Linked DNA regions of Homo sapiens: region 1 is linked to region 2. The links come from fine-mapping of genetic effects on gene expression. A gene starts in region 2. The other region holds a variant in brackets. All regions are shown on one strand. Distances are between the middles of the regions.

Evidence for each region.
Region 1: its variant is fine-mapped to the expression of LAMC3 in whole blood (TOPMed, PIP above 0.99).

Annotation. Positions count from the first base shown.
Region 1 is chr9:131,037,394-131,042,393 of GRCh38, reverse strand. LAMC3 (laminin subunit gamma 3) reads right to left here. Exons shown (of 28, transcript NM_006059.4): 5 at 3,342-3,530; 6 at 3,146-3,263; 7 at 659-757. Among named protein-coding and RNA genes, the nearest start is that of LAMC3, 31 kb to the right of the region's middle. The variant C/T (reference allele first, on the strand shown) is at 1,937.
Region 2 is chr9:131,006,560-131,012,066 of GRCh38, reverse strand. LAMC3 (laminin subunit gamma 3) reads right to left here and starts at 2,893. Exons shown (of 28, transcript NM_006059.4): 1 at 2,480-2,893. The coding sequence starts at 2,852.

The sequences.
Region 1 (5,000 bases), 31 kb before region 2:
GTACCATGGGTATACCATTAGTGATGTCTGCTGTGGGTGTGAAAGGGGTGTATTGACAGTGCTGCATGAGTAATGTCTATTGAGTGTGAAAAGGGAGGGCTGTGATAGGTCTGCCGTGGGTGTGAAAGGGTTGTGATAGTGCTCCGTTAGTGGTGTCTGTCATGGGTGTGAAAGGGGAGCGTTGATAATACTCCATGAGTGATGTCTGCTGTGGGTGTGAAACGGGAGGCCTGTGATAGTGCTCCATTAGCTATGTCTGCAGTGAGTGTGAAACGGGAGGCCTGTGATAGTGCTCCATTAGCGATGTCTGCCACAGCAGGTGGTAGTACGAGCACCATCTATTTACTATCCCTGGATTAGATGGTCTCTCCTATCATTCCAGTTCTTTCTTTTCAGGATTCTAAGCTAAGACATGTATTTTCTCAGCTTATGAATGATCAGTGGTGTTGAATCAAAGCACAAACAGTGCCATAAAGCTTTTGAGTAACTTCCTGTATGACAGATACATGGTGCCCCAGGAAGGGCACAGGGTGACAAGGTCACCCAAGTCCATGAAGACCGTGCCCCTTGCTCCTCCCCGCACTCCACAGCTTTGGTGCCTCATCAGTGAGCCCCCAGGTCACTTCCAGCAAGCTTACTGCTGGATTAGCTCACAAACCTGTCACATAGGTTGCCTTCCACATTCTCTTTGCAGGGGCAGCGCCCACTGCGGGGGTCACAGGTGTCCAGGCTGCCAGCGGGATTGCAAGTGCAGGGTCTGCCAATGAGACAGGACAAGAGGAAAATGTGCAATGAGCAAATTCAGAATGGCAACAGCCCATCCTAGGAAGGGAGCTTTCCCTGCTGCCAACATCAGGAGTGAGGCTGACGCAGGTAACTGACCTGGCTTTACTGTTCCCATCTTGCCAAGGAAGTGACCCATCCATCACTGGTACAGTGGTCCATCTTCCCACCCACCACACATCCATCCAGGATCCTTCCATCTGTCATCCACGCACTCACTCATCATCCATGAATCTTTTTTTTTGGGACAGAGTCACACTTTGCCACCCAGGCTGGAGCGCAGTGTCATGATCTTGGCTCACTGCAACCTCTGCCTCCTGGGTTCAAGTGATTCTCCTGTCTCAGCCTCCTGAGTAGTTAGGACTACAGGCATGCATCACCATGTCCAGCTAATTTTTGTATTTTTAGTAGAGACAGGGTTTCACCATGTTGGCTAGACTGGTCTTTAACTCGTGACCTCAGGTGATCCACCTGCCTTGGCCTCCCAAAGTGCCAGGATTACATACATGAGCCACCGTGCTCGGCCTCCATGAATCTTTCTGTCTATCCCCTCACTCCTCCATCCACTTATTCATCCTTCCTTCTTTCTGTCCAGCAGCCACCTATCCACCCATTCATTCACCCATCCATGCATCTTTCCATCCCTCCCTCCATCCATCCACTCATCTAATAAGACATGGTTCCTCCCTGGTGAATCCCAGTCTGGTGTAGACAGACAGATCACGCAGACCCTGTACCGCGATACGTGTTGTGGGAGATGTACGAGAGGCTGTGCCTGCACTGTGGGGCCTCTGACTCAGCCTGGGTGTGCAGGCGAGGGGCAGGTGGGAGGGAAGGTGTCCCGAGAGCGGGGCTGCTCAGCTGAGACCTGAAGAATGAGCAGGAGGCTGTGAGCCACAGGCTGGGGAGAGGGGGCAGGGGTGGGAGGTGTGGCACCTGCAAAGGTCCAGAGGACAGAGGGACCCCAGGGAAGCAGCCAGGCCCCATCTCATGGTCAGTTTTATGCCCAGAACCACCAAATATTTTACAAGGAATCAGAGCTCTCCTAGATATCCCCAATGTGTTTCTGCTGCCTCTCAAATATACAAAGATGCCCGTTATCAACCAAAGCAAGTTCACTTAAAAGTGCTTCTGGGCCAGGCGCGGTGACTCA[C/T]GTCTGTAATCAGCACTTTGGGAAGCCGAGGAGGGTGGATTACTTGAGCCCAGGAGCTTGAGACCAGCTTGGGCAACATGGCAAAACCCCATCTCTACCAAAAAATACAAAAATTAGCCGGGTGTGGTGGTGCACATTTGTAATCTCAGCTACTCAGGAGGCTGAGATGAGAGGATCACTTGAGTCTGGGAGGCGGAGGTTGTAGTGAGTAGAGATCGCGCCACTGCACTTCAGCCTGGGTGACAGAGGAGGACTCCATCTTAAAAAAAAAAATAGAGATAGTGGGCATGGTGGTGCATGCTTGTAATCCCAGCTACTCAGAAGGCTGAGGCAGAGAATTGCTGGAACCGGGGAGGTGGAGGTTGCAGTGAGCCAAGATGGCACCACTGCATTCCAGCCTGGTTGACAAAACAAGAATCTGTCTCAAAAAAAAAAAAAAAAAGCTTCTAAATTTATCATAGGTTTTTGTTTTGTTTTGTTTTTGTTTTTTGGCCATTGTATACTTTCTCAATCAAGTGATGGCAAATGTGTTGGGGTAAGGTCCAGACCCCAGGAGCCCCTGTCCCTCTCTCCCCTCAGCTGTCCCACTAGGTACCAAACTCGGTGCACCCAGATGACACTCAGCCTCTCCCACCCCGCTCCCCACACTGCGTGCCCTGCTATCCAGAGGCCCAGAGAACCCCGAAGGTCAGCCTCCACCTCTTCTTCCTCTTCCACCCCCTGGTCACCATGTCCTATTAGCTCCTCCTTGCACTGGGCTCTGGAATCTGCCCTGCTCTCCCTCTCCACAGTCAAACCCCCATGCAGGCTGCCCAGGCGTTCCTGCTGTAGCCTCCACGCAGCCTCCCCCTCACCCACTCCTGCTTCTCACTGATCCACGGCTCCTCCAGAGGCCTCCCGTGCCCCCCACCCCACCTCAAACACCTGTCCTTCCCCTCTCCCTGCACTTATGCAGCACCTCCTACAGGAAGCCTGCCCTCCACCTGCAAGATCCGCTGAGCTTCCACAGGGCTCAGCCTGGTCTCATTAAGGTCTGTTTTTGTCTCTTGGCCTCTCCAGGAGCTGAGTGTCTCTAGTCTTCACCAGGATTAGGGCGAGGTAGCTGCAGACAGGAAGGGATGGGGAGGGGAGGGACTGCTGACAGCCTGTTCCTCCTGCTTCTTGTCATTCAGTGCAATGTGTCCATACTGGGCCGCCCCTCGCCCTCACCTGCAGCCTCCCTCACTGAGCGAGTGGAACCCGGGCAGACAGCGGTCACACTTCCAGCCAGTCACCGTGGGCTTGCAGGCGCAGGTGCCTGTGTCATCGCACTGGAGGTGTAGGGAGCCTGGGAGAGGAAGGGCACAGGGCAATTGAGGCCAGGAAAGGGAGAGGGTCGGAGGCTGGGGATGTGGAGTCCACTCACCTGCCGACTGGCAGTCACAGGGCTGGCATGGCATCCGCGGGTCCCAGTGATAGAAATTCTCCTGACAGCGCTCACAGTGTGGCCCAGCTGTGTGGTCACGGCAGTGGTGACAGCGCCCGCCGTGGCCTGTGCTGCGGAAGAGCTCCCGATCAAACGTGCATTCCTCGGAGCGGCCACTGCAGTTGCAGGCTATGGGCAGGAGTGGGGAAAGGTGTGTGAGTCCCCTGTGATGTGGTAGGAGGCTGCATCTGTGTCAGTCAGCCTCCCTGTGCTAAATGAGCAGGCAGTGCAAAGAGAAGGGCAAGAGCATGGTCCAGAATGGAGTTCAGGCCCAGCTTGATCAAGGCTAGACATTGATCAATTGATTTTCCAAAACAGGACACTCTTAAGAGCAAAGGGGACACTGTTAGTAAATACACCAAAACAACAGGCAGAAAGAAGACCATCCCAGGCAACAAGGATATACACCCAGATAGATGGGCACCGATCAGAGGCTGGCTGCCTTCTGGAGTGGCAGCTTGGCTCTCTCCAAAATCTCCTGGAGGTCCTCCAAGCCATAATAGTGTGACTCTCACTATTGTGTGAGGTCACTCAGGGGTACAGAAAGCACAAGTCACCTTTCATTTCCCCCATTAAATCATTTTTAAAAGTCTGTGTGCAGGACTGGCTCTGTCTTGGCTCCCAGAGTGAGCTCAGGGGTGGATCCATGAAAGGTGCGGACCCATTTACACCTGCCGCCCTCGTGCTGCCCACAGCCCAGACGGCAAGCAAGCAAACCCCCTGCAGGTGCAGGGCTGAGACAGGAGAGGCTGGGGGCTTTGGGAGCCGAAAGAAGGGGCCCCTGCAGCTGTGCTGGGGTGGTGGGACAAGGCTTCCGAGAGGAAGTCATGGCCGCGCTGAATCTGAAGGCTGAGCAGTGAGGAATAGGCCAGGCAGAGGAAGAGGGGGCGGGAAGGGCGTCGCAGACAGGAGGCGAAAGCCCAGGGGATACCCCACATGCAGAGACAGACGCGTGGCCTGGTGCGGGTGTGCCATGAGGCTGGCTGCAGACGGCATGTCGTGTGATGGCAGGGAAGGAAGGACTTTGTGCAGTGGGGGGCCTGCAGTGCAGGGGCAGTTGTGAAGTCAGAGGCTAGCAGAGCTTGCTCCAGGGAGGCTGGGCTGCCGTGGTCAGTGGACGTTAGCTGGGAGCAAAGGGGGAGCCGTGGGAAGGTTTAAGCAGGGAATAGATGTTACTAAATTTGTCCTTTAGAAAGTCTTGGCCCAGTGCCATGGCTCACGCCTGTGATCCCAGCACTTTGGAAGGTAAGGTAGGAGGACTGCTTGAGCCTAGGAGTGTAAAGACCAGCCTGGGCAACAGTGAGAGCCGAGCTCTATAAAACATTGCTTGGCATGGTGATGTATGTGCCTGTAGTCTCAGCTACTCTAGTGGCTGAGGTAGGAGGAACACGCACCCAGGAATTCGAGGCTGCAGTGAGCTATGATTGGGCCACTGCACTCCAGCCTGGGTGACAGAGTGAGGCCGTGTTTCAAGAAAAGAGCCTTAGCTGCAGTTAGGGGAGGGCTGGGAACAGGGAGAGCAGGGAAGAGGAAGCTTCGGGTGTGCAGGGAGAGGAGGCAGGGCCAGGCCCAAGGCATCGGCTGCAATGGACAGAAGTT
Region 2 (5,507 bases):
GTGTATGTGTGTGTGTGTTCGCTCTCTACATTCACAGTGTGGAGGCTCTCAGGTTCCTTGCTTTTAGAAGGATCAGAACCACTCTGCTTCTAAGGTTCTAGGCAGAGTTCCACGAGGGTGCACAGCTCAGCACAGGGCCTGGCACACAGTAGATGCACAGTAAACAGGAACTACCTCAAATCCAAAAACTTGGCCATTTCTCCCAACTTCCTCCCACCTTGTTTGTGCCTGGGCTGAGCTCTTTCCTTGGCCCCTGGGTTCCCAGGACACATGTGATACCCTTTGTCATGGAGCACTGTGTCTCCCCAACAACTCCCCACCCTGTCCCAGATTCCTTCCCCTGTGGCCTTGGGGTCCTGCCAGCTCCATCCAGACAGCTCCCCCAGCCTCCCCCCTCCCCACTGGCTTCCTGTCCCCTCCCCCTCGTCCCATTCAGAAGCCCCACCTAGTGATCCAGATAGGCTGAGAGAAGGTGACGTGGCCCCAGAAGAAGGGAGTTTCTGAGGTGGCAGCCAGTACCTGTGTGCTCTGCAGAGCGGGCTCACGGTCCTCCCCGCACCCCACTCCAATGTCACTTCCCAGCCCTCCCCAGGACACTGTCACCAGGCTGAGGTGGAGCTGACTCAGTTGATGGGTGGCGGAACTCACATCAAAGAGTTTATGCTCTGACCTCTGATGTCCATGGATGTCCACGCTCAGATGCTCACTTAGCAGCTCTGTGCCTTTGGGCAAAACAACCTCTCTGAGCCTCAATTTTCTCAGCTGAAACATGGGATACAGTCCCATCATCCCTAATCCAAACTCCTAGGCTCCAAATGTGTTTGGGAATTGAACATTTTTCAGCTTTTAGAAAGACGATGCAGGCCTTATACCATATATTGTGCTAATACCCCCAGTGGGGTCTGGGGCTGCCGGCTGTACTCAAATGAGATTTCAGTAGCAAAGCGAATGAATATTCATTCTCACTAGCATAAACATAGCTTATAAATAGCCTCAGGTCAGGTTTAGCAGCAAAAATGAGTTATAAAAATAATTTGAGTTTTCAAAGCTTTGGGAGGCTGACCTCGAAGATAAGGGAGTCTAACCAGTGATACCAGCCCCTCCTGAAAGGGCAGTGGAGGCTGCAACAGGAAAGACACTTGGCGCTTACCCGGCCACAGAGGACATGGGAATCGGGCTGAACACGGAGGGAGGAGAGAGCATTCCAGCTCCCTGCAGTGGGGGCAGGGGCTGAGAACCGGGGCTGGGTCCAGACTCCAGATTCTGATTCCTGGAGATCTAAGGGCTTCTGCACCTCGGCAAGTCATGAGCAGGGCAGAGAGGCCATGCCACCGGGCGCAGCTGCCCAGCAGCACGAAGAAACTTAGTCCTCCTCCCCAGAGGGTTAAACTTTGCCTGTGCAGTGATGAACATCACAGCTTCTATCTTCCAGAACCCACCCGAGGACTGCAGGCAGCTTCAGGGGTCCACTGAATACCTGAAGTTGACCAGAAGACCCAAGATCAGGAGCCCCTGCCCTAGAGGGTGACCAATTCAGTCCTTGGTGTGTCACCTCCCCAACAGTTCTGGTCTAGGATGGAAAACCATTACAGGGGATTATAATTGCAACCTAGAACCAAAGCTCAGCAAGTGACTCCCTGCCTCTCCCGCCCCACGGGGCACCCCTCAGTCTATCCTTCTGGCTATCTAGGGGTACAGGTCCTGTTTTTTTTTCTTCTTTTTTTCATTCTTTCTTTTTATTAAGAGATAAGGTCTCACTCTGTAGCCCAGGCTGTAGCACAGTGGCACTATCATATTTCATGCAGCCTCAACCTCTCAGTCTTAAGTGATCCTCCTGCCTCAGCCTCTTGAGTAGCTGGGACCATAGGTGTGCACCACCACGCCCAGCTTTTTTTTTTTTTTTTTTTTTTTTTTGAGACGGAGTTAGCTCTGTTGCCCAGGCTGGAGAACGGTGGTGCGACCTCGGCTCACGGCAACCTCCACCTCCCGGGTTCAAGCGATTCTCCTGCCCCAGCCTCCTGAGTAGCTGGAACTACAGGCACCTACCACCACGCCCGGCCAAATTTTCTATTTTTAGTAGAGACGGGTTTTCACCATGTTGGCCAGGCTGGTCTCGAACTCCTGACCTCAGGTGATCCGCCCGCCTCGGCCTCCCAAAGTGCTGGGATTACAGACGTCAGCCACCGCGCCCGGCCTATTTTTCTTTATTTTTTGTAAAGATGGGATCTCACTACGTTGCCCAGGCTGATCTTGAACTCCTGGGCTCAAGCGACCCTCCCATCTCGGCCTCCCAAAGTGCTGGGATTTCAGGAGTGAGCCACCGCACCCAGCCTAATTCCTATTTCTGAGCCCCTCCATCCAACACCATATCTGGGTCCTGCAGCCCAACCTGGGCGCACAGCAGCTCAGGCCTCAGCCTCAGACCCCCAGTGGAGTGGGGACACGGGGTGCGGTGGCGGTGCCCCCAGCCCGCGCTTACCTAGGCGGAGGGTGATGTTGACCGAGGTGGGGTACTGCACGCCGAAGGCCATGGACGGGCTCTGCCACCAGGTGCTCTCGTCCTGGCTGTGGAAGTCGGTGAGGTAGGAGGCGTTGTGGTGGCGCTGGGGGTCGGCGGCGTCGCAGCGCTGGCAATGAGCCCCCGCGCCCGCGGCGCCCACGTGGGGACAGAAGTCCTCGGGCGGGCTGCCGCACGTGTGCGAGGCCTGGGCGAGCCGCCCAAACGCCGCGTTCTCGAACACCGGCAGGCAGCGCTGCGGGCGCCCTGCGCCGTCATAGCACGCGCCCATGCCCGCGCCGGCCGCCCGCGGTGCCAGCAGCGCCAGCCCCAGCAGAAGCGCAGCCGCCGCCATGGTCAAGGGCACCGACGCCGCGCGCTCTGCCGGCCCCGCTCGGCTAGGGTGGGCGCGGACCGCGCGCTGGCCGCCAGGACCCGCCTTCCCCTGCGGGGCGGGGAGGCTGGAGGGAGGGGCGGGCGGCGGCGGCCCCACCCCACTAAAAATACCAGGGACCGCGCCGTCCCCGGGCGCCCACTCCCACCTGCTGGACGTGCCCGGCAGTGCGCGGCTCGGGAGTCTGCCCCAGAGGCGACCCGGGCCTCTTTGAGCCTCAGTTTCCTCGTCTGTGGAGTGGGGTCGGTAAAGATGCAGGCTCATTCTCGCCATTGGGAGGCTTCAATGGCTGCTCATTAAACAGAAACTGTTCAGCAGTGCCTTGGAGTCCTGAGATAAAAGGGGACAAGAGGATCTATCTCTAACTGATCGCTACCGTTTGCGCATCTCCTCCTAGCAATAAAGTGTGCCCTGGACAGGGTTGTGAGATGGCTCCGCATAGCTCCTGTCGCCCTTAACCCTGAAAAGCACTCCTGCTGCCGGCTGCGCTCTGTCCCCACAGCAAAGAGATTCTAACCTGACATTTGTGACAAGGGTACCTGGTCTTATCACAAATGTCACCTCAGAGAGGGCTTCCTTGTCTTCTGCCCCAACCCCCATAAATGCCCCCTTTACTCCCCATTTATTAACATTAGCAAATCGAGGGAGAGAAGTCATTCGATAAAATTTAGCAGCCAGGTCGTGCGCGGTGGCTCACGCCTGTAATCCTAGCACTTTGGGAGGTGGAGGCGGAAGGATAACTTGAGGCCAGGAGTTCGAGACCAACCTGGGCAAAATAGTGAGACCCTATCTCTACAAAAAAATACAAAAATTAGCCCGGCGTCATGGCACAAGCCTGTAGTCCCAGCTACCTGGGAGGCTGAGGTGGAAGGATCCCTTGAGCCCGGGAGGTTAGGCTGCAGTGGGCTGTGATCATGCCATTGCACTCCAGCCTGGCCAACAGAGTCAGACCCTGTCTCGAAAAAAAAAAAAAAAAAAAGGCAGCCATTCCCAGACGAACTCTAAGGAAAATAGAAATAAATTTCCTGGCCTGGCGCGGTGGCTCTCGCCTATAATCCCAGCATTTTGGGAAGTTGAGGAAGGCAGATCACCTGAGGTCAGGAGTTCGAGACCAGCCTGGCCAACATAGTGAAACCCCGTCTCTACTAAAAACACAAAAATTAGCTGGGTGTGGCGGTGCGTGCCTGTAATCCCAGCTACTCAGGAGGCTGAGGCAGGAGAATTGTTTGAACCCGGGGGGCAGAAGTTGCAGTGAACTGAGATCATGCCATTGCACTCCAGCCTGGGCAACAAGAGAGAAACTCCATCAAAAAAAAAAAAAAGAAAGAAAAGAAAGAAAGAAAATTTTTGGAAGCAAGATGAACTGTAGTGGGCTGATTCACTACCAGTTATTTACACATGATTAAAACAATACGGTTGTGGAAAGGACTACAGAATAGACCCATGGAATAAGTTAGAGATTTCAGAACTATATCTAAGTAGAGTTAGTATATGATATCACCACTGGTACCTAAGGTTATTTTGGAAGTTCTAGCTAATACAATAAGACAAAAAACTTAAAAGATATAAATATTTATATCTTCTACTTACCTGAACATACATCTAGAAAATCTAAAAGATTCTACTAAGACTATTAAAATTAATAAGAGCTCCGTAAGATGGCTGACTACAGGATAGAGTACGAAAACCAATGCCAGCAATAGGCATTTTCTGGCTGGGTGCGGTGGCTCACGCCTGTAATCCCAGCACTTTGGGAGGCTGAGGCAGGCAGATCACCTGAGGTCATGAGTTCGAGACCAGCCTGGGCAATATGGTGAAACCCCATCTCCACTAAAAATACAAAAATTAGCCAGGCATTGTGGCACACCTGTAATCCCAGCTACTTGGAAGGCTGAGGCACAAGAATCGCTTGAATTCAGGAGACAGAGGTTGCAGTGAGCCGAGGTCACGCAAATGCACTCCAGCCTATGCAATAGAGCAAGACCCTGTTTTTTAAAAAACAAAACAAAAACAAAACAAAACAAACAAAAAACTGATGCCAGCAATGATGTAGGAAATGGTAGAACACCTAATAATAAATCTGGTATGAAATGTGCAAGATATAAATGAATCAAATTATAAAATGCTACTGAGAGACAGAAAACCTGAAGAGACCAGCATCTATATTCACGGATTTCCAACTGTTTAAATATACAAATTCTCCCCAAGTTAAAATATCATTTAATGTAATTCCAAATTGTTTTTTTGATGGTGTTATGGAAGCTTCTTTGTTAAAGTTTTCTCTTATGGTCAAGAACATGATTGCAGCAGACTCTTGATGGTCCACGCAGCTACCCTGAGCTGGGCTGTGCACCCATCCAAAGCAAATTCATCTATCAGGCACAGGAAACATGGCAGCCCACAGGAATTCTAGGAACCCACAAAAACTGTTCTAATATCTTTAAAGTCAGAAGAAAAAAAAGAACTTTTAGGCTGAAGAACATGTTTTAACGTATGATATTAATATACCCGTCTTTAGATCAATGCAATGGTTAAATATAATTTTTAAAAATGTTAGTGCCAGGCACGGTGGCTCATACCTGTGATCCCAGCACATTGGGAGGCTAAGGCGGGTAG